Linked DNA regions of Homo sapiens. The protein of the gene in region 1 purifies or fractionates together with the protein of each later gene. This does not show direct contact. Each region holds a gene or a part of one and is shown in the gene's direction. Other genes may lie near its edges. The genes, in order: ECEL1, MAN2A2 and DNAJC16.

Region 1 (2,767 bases):
GACGCTGGGGCAGCTGCAGAAGATCACCCCCCACGTGAGTGTGGCCCAGTCCTCGTGGGCAGGCAGGGTTGAGGGCAATGCTGCTGCTGGGACTACAGGGTCATCTCTCCCCAGAGATGGGCAAACCGTTCCTTGGCCATGGACTCTCATGTCCCCTCGCTGCCTCTCTCTGCCCCCTCCCTGTCTTCTGTGGCCCCTGCCAACCCTAGCCTCACTGTCCCTGTCCTTGGTCTCACAGTTGCGGTGGAAGTGGCTGCTAGACCAGATCTTCCAGGAGGACTTCTCAGAGGAAGAGGAGGTGGTGCTGCTGGCGACAGACTACATGCAGCAGGTGTCGCAGCTCATCCGCTCCACACCCCACCGGTATGGCTGCAGATCTGGCATTTTCTGCCCAGCGGTCACTAGGTCCTTCCCCTGCACCCTGGACCTCTCTGCTGGGTGGGCTTTACATTTTCTGCTCTGCATAGCTGGGATGACCCCCTGTCCCTTCTTTGTGGGGCTGTCTGGGTCCTGGGTCCAGCCACAGGTTGGCGGGCACAGGTAGGGGTGGTGCCCTTGGTGGCCCACATGCATGTCCGTCTGGACACCCACTGGCTTCACCTGGTCCCCAGGGTCCTGCACAACTACCTGGTGTGGCGCGTGGTGGTGGTCCTGAGTGAACACCTGTCCCCGCCATTCCGTGAGGCACTGCACGAGCTGGCACAGGAGATGGAGGGCAGCGACAAGCCACAGGAGCTGGCCCGGGTCTGCTTGGGCCAGGCCAATCGCCACTTTGGCATGGCGCTTGGCGCCCTCTTTGTACATGAGCACTTCTCAGCTGCCAGCAAAGCCAAGGTGGGTTGCCCTTGTTTGAGAGAGGAGGATGGTGCTGAACTGAGGGTGGAGCCCTCCCGAGGCCATGGTCCTAATATGGGGAGCCCCACATGTCCCCTGCAGGCAGGGGGACCAGGCCCTGCTAAGTACTCAGCCGATTCTGAGGCCCCAGGCTGCTCCTCCACAGGCCTCCTCCTCCAGGAAGCTTATGTGGACTATCAACTGCAGGCAGACCTCCCTGCCAGGCCCCAGCCCACCTTCTCAGGCATGCTCGGGAGGCGTGGCCTTAGGGATGTCTGTGGTCATTGCTGGGGCAGTTTCCTCCTCTATCTTGTGAGCCCTCGGGGGTGCAGGGCCTGGATCCTCACCTCCAAAGTATCCTCTTGGTGTTCAGAAATGAGGTTTGGGCTTAGAAAGTGGTGCTTAAAGGCAGGGGTACCCCTCCTGCCAGGAGTGATAGACCAGGCTGCTGGGTTGACCCTTGCTCCCTGACCCCTGACCCTGCAGGTGCAGCAGCTAGTGGAAGACATCAAGTACATCCTGGGCCAGCGCCTGGAGGAGCTGGACTGGATGGACGCCGAGACCAGGGCTGCTGCTCGGGCCAAGGTGAGGGGGGACCCAGTGTCATTGGTTGGTCCCATATATATTGAGCACCTACTGTGTACCAGCGAAAGAGAACAAAAGGGACAAAGAGGCCTTCGTGGAGTTGACCAGGCCTGCCTCCCCCACTGTGAAGCCCACTCCCAGGCTGGCCTAGTGCTCCCTTCCTTGGTGGGTAGGGTGGGGGGCGGGGGGCTGTCTCCCGAGGCCTGGTGCCACCTTCACCTGCCCTCGGCCCGCAGCTCCAGTACATGATGGTGATGGTCGGCTACCCGGACTTCCTGCTGAAACCCGATGCTGTGGACAAGGAGTATGAGGTGGGCCCTGACCCTGCCTGCCCAGCCTGTCCACAGCCCCTCTACTAACGGCACTCAGGAGGGCAGGTGGCCTGCACGGCCAGGTTGTTGCCCAGTCTGCAGGTAGCCCTGCCCTGGCCTGCCGCTGAGTGTCGCCCGTGCCTCCTGCAGTTTGAGGTCCATGAGAAGACCTACTTCAAGAACATCTTGAACAGCATCCGCTTCAGCATCCAGCTCTCAGTTAAGAAGATTCGGCAGGAGGTGGACAAGTCCACGTGGGTGCCTGGCCCAGAGCTGGGGGTCAGGGAAGGGTTGTGGGGAAAGGGCAGGAGCTGGTAGGGCAAATCGTCTCACAGCCATGCAGATATGGGGGGCACACACGCCAGCACAGGGCATGGGGTGGGGGCCGGCAGGGTGACCCCCAGACTGTCAGGAGATGGCTGACGAGGAAGCTGTGATGTGAGGGTAGCGGGGGAGGGAGTGTGTTCCCCCCATTCACCCCAGCATCCCTCCACAGGTGGCTGCTCCCCCCACAGGCGCTCAATGCCTACTATCTACCCAACAAGAACCAGATGGGTAAGGGGATGTGTCCCTACGCCGGGCGGGGCAGGGTCCGAAAGTGGATGGGTTTCCCACTGAGCACCCCCTTCTTGTAGTGTTCCCCGCGGGCATCCTGCAGCCCACCCTGTACGACCCTGACTTCCCACAGTGAGTACATAGCTTGCCCTGTTTGTGGCTGAGGGCAGGGCTGGCATTGCAGACCTTGTCTACCAGGTGTGTGTCGGCGTACTGTGGCTCCAATCGCCCCAGACCCAGCTGGGTTCAGGAGTCAGGACAGCTGTGGACCCTGGCTCCCCACTACATCCTTGGTTATTTAGAAAAATGTGTAGGTTTGTTATTTGTAACTTCCTGGGGTCTTCTTTACTTGTTTGAGGCTCATTTTGATGTTTCAAAGGTGGCGCAACACTAATGATGAGGTAGGAGGAGAAACCCCTACGTAGGTGCCTCCGTTTCCCTCCTGTCTCCTCCAGCCCTGTTTCACTGCCCAGCCAGCTCTG
Region 2 (3,721 bases), on another chromosome or scaffold:
GAGAGGTAAGGGTCGGCTCTGGGAGCGGGGAACTAGTACGAGCAAGGTGTAGCTGCGCCAGAGCCCAGGTGACAGAGCCCGCCACTCAGTCACTCGTGCATCAGATAGATATTGAGCACCTGCTTTACTGTGAGGACCCAGAGGGACATAAGTGCAGACAGTGCTGACTCTCCCAGGAGTTTACTCGTGAGTAGGGGTGGCAGAGAAGCCATGTGTGTAAAAATGCAAGGTAGAAAGGGCTTTGTCTCACTGATCCTGAGGAGCAAGGTAATAATGTGGGCTAAGGAGATCGAGGTCAAGGAGGTGTCACCCAGGTGTGGCTTTGATGAATGGGGTGTGATTTGAAGATATGAACCAGGGCACAGGATAGGAGGCAGGAAAGACAACAGGCTGGGGAATAGCAGTGAGTTCCTTAGTTATGCTGGAGCTATGCTATCCAGTACGGTGGCCAGTAGCCCTATATGGCTATTTAAATTACAACTAAATCAAGTAAAAAATTTGCTTTCTTATTCCTACTGACCACACTTCAAGTACTCAAGTGGCTAAGTGGCTGCCGTATTAGACCATGTGGTGTCGGATATTTCCATCCTTGCAGAATGCCCTCTTGGCTGGTGCTGGGCTAGAGTGCTAGGGGGAGATCAGGGCAGACGGCAGAGCACCTTGAGTGCCTGCTAAGGGATCTGGACTTTATCCTGGCTAGGAAAGGTCCAGGCTAAGGAAAGAGCTGAGCAAGGAGGGACACCGTCAGAACTCTGGTCTCAGCATGTCACGCTGACAGTACGGAGCAGGTTGGATCTGTGGGAAGGGAGACTGGAGGAGGGTGACAGCGGGAGGCTGTTCAGGCAGGACATGCTGGCTGCTTGAACTAGGCCAGAGGCTGGAGAAGTTGCCGGTGGCTATGAGGACACTGCCCAGGTGCGACGGAAGAGGGTTTAGCATTACCTGGGAATGCAGAGGGAAGTGAGAGATGCTGGGCGCTTGGAAGAAGGGGGATGCCAGGGACAGAAGTCCAGAATATTCAGCCCAGGCCTGTGAGTCTGACGTCCAGGTGAGCTGCTAAGGAGTAGCCCTGCTGGCAGAGCCCCGGCCGCGCTGGGCCTGAGAGCCAGGCTGGCACTGTGGATGTGGCATCGCTCGTGAAGCCGCAGATTACCCAGAGCACTCTGGATTGGAGGTCCGTGCTCCATGGTGAGGCCTGCGTCTGCCTGGCTGCCATCCTCCCTGCACTGTGGATCCATGTGTGAGGGGAGACATGGCTGATGGGAGTGGGTTGCTCATGATAGTGTTATGTGAGCAAGGAACTAAAAAGTAGAGAAGAAACAGCTTAGTGAAGTAGCCCTCTGCGTTAGGGGAGACGGCAAATGTCCACACTTGAAGGGTTAGCGGAACCTCGCCTGGAGCCAGGCGTGCCCTTGAGTCCAGGCACACCAGGAAAGGTCTTTCCAAAACAACTGACCTGGGTGTGCTTTTATCCTGCCTCGTCCTCTCCCCTCAGCCTGGCTTTGGTCCCTCACCAATATCTCGGGTCAATTTTGCAGGTCCAAGATAGCCACTCTACCAGCTACCCATCCCTCCTCAGCCACCTGACCTCCATGTACCTGAACGCCCCGGCGCTCGCTCTGCCTGTAGCCAGGATGCAGCTCCCAGGCCCTGGTCTGCGCTCATTTCATCCTCTGGCTTCCTCACTGCCCTGTGACTTCCACCTGCTCAACCTACGTACGCTCCAGGCTGAGGTGAGTGTCCCTCAGCGTGACATGCTGAGAGCAGAGTTCTGATGGTGTCCCTCCCTGCTCAGCTCCTTCCTTAGCCTCCAGGATGAGGTCCAGACCCCTTAGCAGGTATTCGGCTCCAAACCTCCAGGACCAGGTTTTGGCCTTTCCTTACCCACACGCCTCCCTGTGCCAGCACTGCCTCTGGGCAGAGGCGCTGCTGCATCTCCGATCTCTGAAAGCCCTGCGCCCACTTCCCTGGGCACTGTCTGTCATCCAGGAGGACACCCTACCCTCGGCGGAGACCGCACTCATCTTACACCGCAAGGGTTTTGACTGCGGCCTGGAGGCCAAGAACTTGGGCTTCAACTGCACCACAAGCCAAGGCAAGGTGAGTAGGGTGGGGAAACAGAGCACCTAGGAATGGCAGGCATGAGCTTGGTAAGACTGGGCTGAGATTCGGTGACAGGCTGGGAGAAGAAAGTGTCACTCCAGGGCTTTCTGGAGAGAAGGGGGGAAGCTGTAGACATGTTTTCAGAGCTCCGGAGGCCTGGCAGGGGGAGTTCCAGACAAGGTAGATCGCTTGAGAACTTTTGTTCCCTGAGCAGGGACCTCTATCAAGCAAAGTGGAAAACACCAGAAATAGAAAACCAGAACCCATCCTGTTGTTACTTTGTAAGCTCATATCAGCCGGCACTGATAAATGTCCCCGGGTGCCAGGTCCTCTGCTGGGCTCCAGTGTTTCAGAAGTGAACCAAGACATGGTCACTGTTTTCACAGAGCTCACAGCTCAGTGGAACGGTTCTTACCCAGAGATCTGTAGGCAGGCTTTAGGGTTGAGCAAATCTCAGCAAGCCCGTGAGACTGGATGCACACTCATGTGTAAGAAGGCATGGTGTTGCTGAGAGGGGCCAGCCGGAACTGGAGTGCAGTGGCGTGATCGCAGCTCACTGCAACCCCCGCCTCCTGGTTCAAGTGATCCTCCTGCCTCAGCCTCCCGAGTAGCTGGGATTACAGGCGCCTGCCCCCACGCCCAGCTAATTTTTATATTGTTAGTAGAGACGGGGTTTCGCCATGTTGGCCAGGCTGGTCTCGAACTCCTGACCTCAGGTGATCCACCCGCCTTGGCCTCCCAAAGTGCTGGGATTACAGGTGTGAGCCACTGCCCCTGGCTGAGATTCTTAAAGAGGTACCAAATTGTAGATGAACAGCCACATTCTTTAGTGTCTCGGCACCTAGCACAACCCTGCCCCTTCTCTGCTCTCCACAGGTAGCCCTGGGCAGCCTTTTCCATGGCCTGGATGTGGTATTCCTTCAGCCAACCTCCTTGACGTTACTGTACCCTCTGGCCTCCCCGTCCAACAGCACTGACGTCTATTTGGAGCCCATGGAGATTGCTACCTTTCGCCTCCGCTTGGGTTAGGGCTTCTTGTGGCCTGAAGAGAAAGTTCATTCACAGAGACTGCCTCTTAACATGAAGATCATTGGACAAGCCACACGGGTATCCCATCCCGATCTGCCTCCCAGAACTGTGACACACTGGGCTCTGCCCTCATTTTCTGTTTATTGCTGCTGCTGTGTTTTCGGCGCAACCCACAAACCCAGTGATGGGTAAATAGGGCAGACGCCAGTGAGATCAGGGAGAGAAGGCCCTTGGTCAGAGTGGGCAGTGCCAGGCTCTGCTTTGGGTTGTGAGTGGACACCCAACTGGGCACAGGCTCAGGCACCCATCCTTTTTCCAAACAGGGATATAGAAGTGGTGGAAGCAGACAGAAGAGGTAAGGGAGGCTAAGTGGGTAACAGCCCAGCATCAGGGTCACTGTGGCAACAGCAGGCTCTAGGGGAATCCTGTGGTTATGTAGAGACTCCATGTCCTGGTGTGATGAGCAGGATCAGAGTGACTCTGGGAGGACAGGGGTGGGGACCCAGAGTTAGCAGTGGGGATGGAGCAGTAGAAGGAATCACTGTTTCTCCTAGGAGTCTGAAGGCCTCGCTGCTTTCTGTGATGGCTT
Region 3 (3,721 bases), on another chromosome or scaffold:
GCTACCATGCCCAGCTAACGTTTCTATTTTTAGTAGAGACAGGGTTTCACCATGTTGGCCAGGCTGCTCTCGAACTCCTGACCTTGTGACCCACCTGCCTCAGCCTCCCAAATTGCTGGGATTACAGGCATGAGCCACTGTGATGGGCTTTTTTTTTTTTTTCGGAGACCAAGTCTCACTCTGTTGCCCATGCTGGAGTGCAGTGGTGTGATCTAGACTCACTGCAACCTCCGCCTACCGGGTTCAAGCAATTCTTTCACCTCTGCCTCCAGAGTAGCTGGGACTGCAGGCACACACCACCACGCTCGGCTAATTTTTGTGTTTTAGTGGAGATGGGGTTTCACCATGTTGGCCAGGCTGGTCTTGCACTCCTGACCTCAAGTGATCCGCCCACCTCGGCCTCCCAAAGTGCTGGGATTAAAGGCATGAGCCACCACGCCTGGCCACTATCCCTGTTTGCATAGAGCAAGATACTGAGGCTTAGAGCAGTCATATAACCCACCCAAGTTCTCACTACAGCATGGTGAGCGCGATTCCCACTGACTTCAGACCTGCCCTGTGAATGATTCCCCCACTACACTCCCAGCCTACCTACACTCCCCACTACCTCTCATGTCACTGTGACATGAGACGGAGAGGAAGGTGTTATCAGTGGCATGGTCACTGCCATCTTACCTAATTACGGTACAGGTAATCCCCAAACTCATGCCTCCTGACCAGTACAGATTTCAAGAAGATCGTTATTTTGCTTTAGCTATGAAAAAGAAGAGAGTTGTTTGTATTTACTTTGTTGGTACAGTTTTTGCACATGGAACACCATAGAATGGAAGTATACAAGGATACGGAAGACCTAGTGGAGCTGTGTAAGCTGGCATGTACCTCTCTGCTCAGTGATGTGAAAAAGCCCTACTTGATTTGTCATTTACATCTTTGCTGTAGTTTTATTTTCTTCCTCTCTATTATGCCCTAACAGTTGACTGCCTTTGCATACAAAGATTATTTATCATTTGGATATGTATATGTGGGTTTGAGAGGGACGGAAGAGATGACAAGGCGGTACAACATCAATATCTACGCCCCTACCCTCTTGGTCTTTAAAGAACATATAAACAGGCCTGCCGATGTTATCCAGGTACGTGAGGGTCACCTTGGTTAAGATTTTCTTCACATTTTATCCCAAGATTTTATGTAAATAAACAGCAAAATTGAACAAAGTGGCTGAAGGAAAGGATCTTCCTTCAGATGCACAAAATTTTTTAATGAATTTTTTTATCTAACTTGGTACCGTTTGCTTTAAAATTTTTAATTTAAAACGTTTAAAAATTTTAGCACCTTTAAAGGGCTCCTGTTGGAAAACCAACAATCTTTTTCCAAAATGAATTTAAAAGTTAAATGTAAAACAGTAATAAAAAGGAATAAGAAGAAGCCACAAACTAACTGAGAGAATGTACAGATGAATATTTATCTGATCTTAAGGTAGGAAAGGGTTAAAAAGCATTGGGGAAAAATCTTGGAAAATCTTGATAACTTGACTCTAAATTTTATGTTTTTATGTAAATACTTTAAAATGTAAAGTTAAAAAACTGGGGGAATATTTATAACAAATATTAAAATGTTGATATTTTTAATTTCTAAAGAGCTTTTAATCAAGAAAATCATAAAATTCTGAGAAGACTAATAACCATTTTTAAAAATTAAATCTCACAAGTAATCAGAGAACATTAACCTTTTTTCACCCATCCAACTGTCAAAGATTTTCTAAGTTAAAATAGTACTGTTGAGGGTATAGAGAAACAAGTACTATCTTGCTAGAGGCAGTCCACTCTAATGGCAGCTCAGGTGTCCTGTGAACACAGAAGGGTACCTGAAACCATGGAAACCAGATGGGAAAGTGGACCGTAAAGAAAGAAGAGCAGGTTTAGAAAGATAAGAACTTTGGCTGTGGACATACTGAATTAGAGCTGCCTGTAGGAAATAGAAGGGGAGAAGTCCTTTCTACAGTTGGGTATAGGAATCGAGATCTTAAGAAAAGCATACAGGCTGGGGATAGAAACTGGTGTATCATCAGTAAATGGTTAGTGGTTGAAGTCCTGAGTAGGGTAAGATCTTCCCGGCATAATACCGTAGTCTCCCCTGATCCACCCCACTTACCCCTTTTTCAGTTTCTGAGGTTTCAGTTACCCACAGTCAACCAGGTCCAAAACATAGGTGACTACAGTGCAAGAAGATATTTTGAAGCCGGGCGTGGTGGCTCACGCCTGTAATCCCAGCACTTTGGGAGGCCGAGGCGGGCAGATCACGAGGTCAGGAGATTGAGACCATCCTGGCCAACGTGGTGAAACCCCGTCTCTACTAAAAATACAAAAAATTAGCCGGGCGTGGTGGTGGGCCCCTGTAGTCCCAGCTACTCGGGAGGCTGGGGCAGGAGAATGGCGTGAACCCAGGAGGCGGAGCTTGCAGTGAGCTGAGATCACGCCGCCCACTGCACTCCAGCCTGGGCGACAGAGCAAGACTCCGTCTCAAAAAAAAAAAAAAAAAAAAAGATGTTTTGAGCGAGGGGGACCATGTTCACATCACTTTATTACAGTATATTGTTAGAATTGTTCTATTTAAATATTGTTGTTGTTAATCTCTTGCTGTGCCTAATTGATAAACTTTATCATAGGTATGTGTATAGGAAAAAAACATAGTTTGTATAGAGTTCAGTACTATGTGGTTTCAGGCACCTACTGGGGGTCTTGGAACGTATCCTCTGCAGTTAGGGGATGACTGCTGTATGTAAAGTAAGGCCAAGGAGGCCAAGGACAAAACTCAGAACAGCCACCGGCACACAAGACAAGGGGGTGCCTGATGGAGACGAGAAGGTGCTGCAAGTCAGGAAGAAAACAAATACCAGTGTCCGAATAGAAAAGAGAAGATAATCTCAATCCAGGGTAAATGGATGAGGATTTCCTAAATTGGTCTTTCGGAACAGTTTATAGTTCTGAGAATTATATTTATTTATCCCACTGGGGAAAATTGTAAATCAAATACATTTACAAAATTATTGGTAGAATGGCTGCTTTACCAGCTTGCTCTTTGTGGATATCAAGTGTATGCTTAACAAACTCAGTTTTCACAACAGCAGGTGGCTTAATGATCACTAGTAGCACCAGTGGTTTCCTGTTGCTCTAGGTAATTTGTTGTCATTGCTATATGGTATTTATGGCCATTATAATTTATTGAATCATTCTTCCGTTGGTGGACATTGGGGGCTTTGAGGAATAGTGTTGCAATGAATATCATAACCTAAGTACAGAGTTCTCTAGGACAGCAGTTTTCAGAATGTGGTTGATAGACTCCTGGGGATTCTCAAAGATCCTTCAAGAGAAAGTCTGTGAGATCATATCAAGACACGATTTGCCTTTTTCACTGTGTTGACATTTACACTGATAGTACCAAAGCAGTAGTGGGTGAAGCTGCCAGTGCCAGTGCATGAATCCAGGCAGGGCACCAGGCCACCTACCATCATTGTGTGCTTCACCCCCAATCACTCGCAGCAAAAACAAACCACTAGATTCACTTCATGTATTTTGTTTTCTTTTGTTTTTGGAGACAGAATCTCACTCTGTCGCCCAGGCTGGAGTGCAATGGCATGATCTCGGCTCACTGCAACCTCCGCCTCCCGGGTTCAGGCAATTCTTCTGCCTCAGCCTCCCGAGTTGCTGGGATTACAGGCACC

The links.
Region 2: the proteins of ECEL1 (region 1) and MAN2A2 purify together in Homo sapiens (affinity purification with mass spectrometry; one large-scale study listed by BioGRID and IntAct). This does not show direct contact.
Region 3: the proteins of ECEL1 (region 1) and DNAJC16 purify together in Homo sapiens (co-immunoprecipitation; 2 studies listed by BioGRID and IntAct, with this or other methods). This does not show direct contact.

The regions. Positions count from the first base shown.
Region 1 is NC_000002.12:232,482,068-232,484,834, reverse strand, and holds part of ECEL1 (endothelin-converting enzyme-like 1), read left to right. Parts: coding exon 1-34; intron 35-238; coding exon 239-363; intron 364-611; coding exon 612-834; intron 835-1,320; coding exon 1,321-1,419; intron 1,420-1,655; coding exon 1,656-1,730; intron 1,731-1,880; coding exon 1,881-1,984; intron 1,985-2,226; coding exon 2,227-2,285; intron 2,286-2,365; coding exon 2,366-2,417; intron 2,418-2,767. UniProt on the Homo sapiens protein: May contribute to the degradation of peptide hormones and be involved in the inactivation of neuronal peptides.
Region 2 is NC_000015.10:90,916,656-90,920,376, forward strand, and holds part of MAN2A2 (alpha-mannosidase 2x), read left to right. Parts: coding exon of another isoform or gene 1-5; intron 6-1,538; coding exon 1,539-1,733; intron 1,734-1,989; coding exon 1,990-2,100; intron 2,101-2,979; coding exon 2,980-3,132; 3' UTR 3,133-3,721.
Region 3 is NC_000001.11:15,547,297-15,551,017, forward strand, and holds part of DNAJC16 (dnaJ homolog subfamily C member 16 isoform 1 precursor), read left to right. Parts: intron 1-973; coding exon 974-1,132; intron 1,133-3,721. UniProt on the Homo sapiens protein: Plays an important role in regulating the size of autophagosomes during the formation process.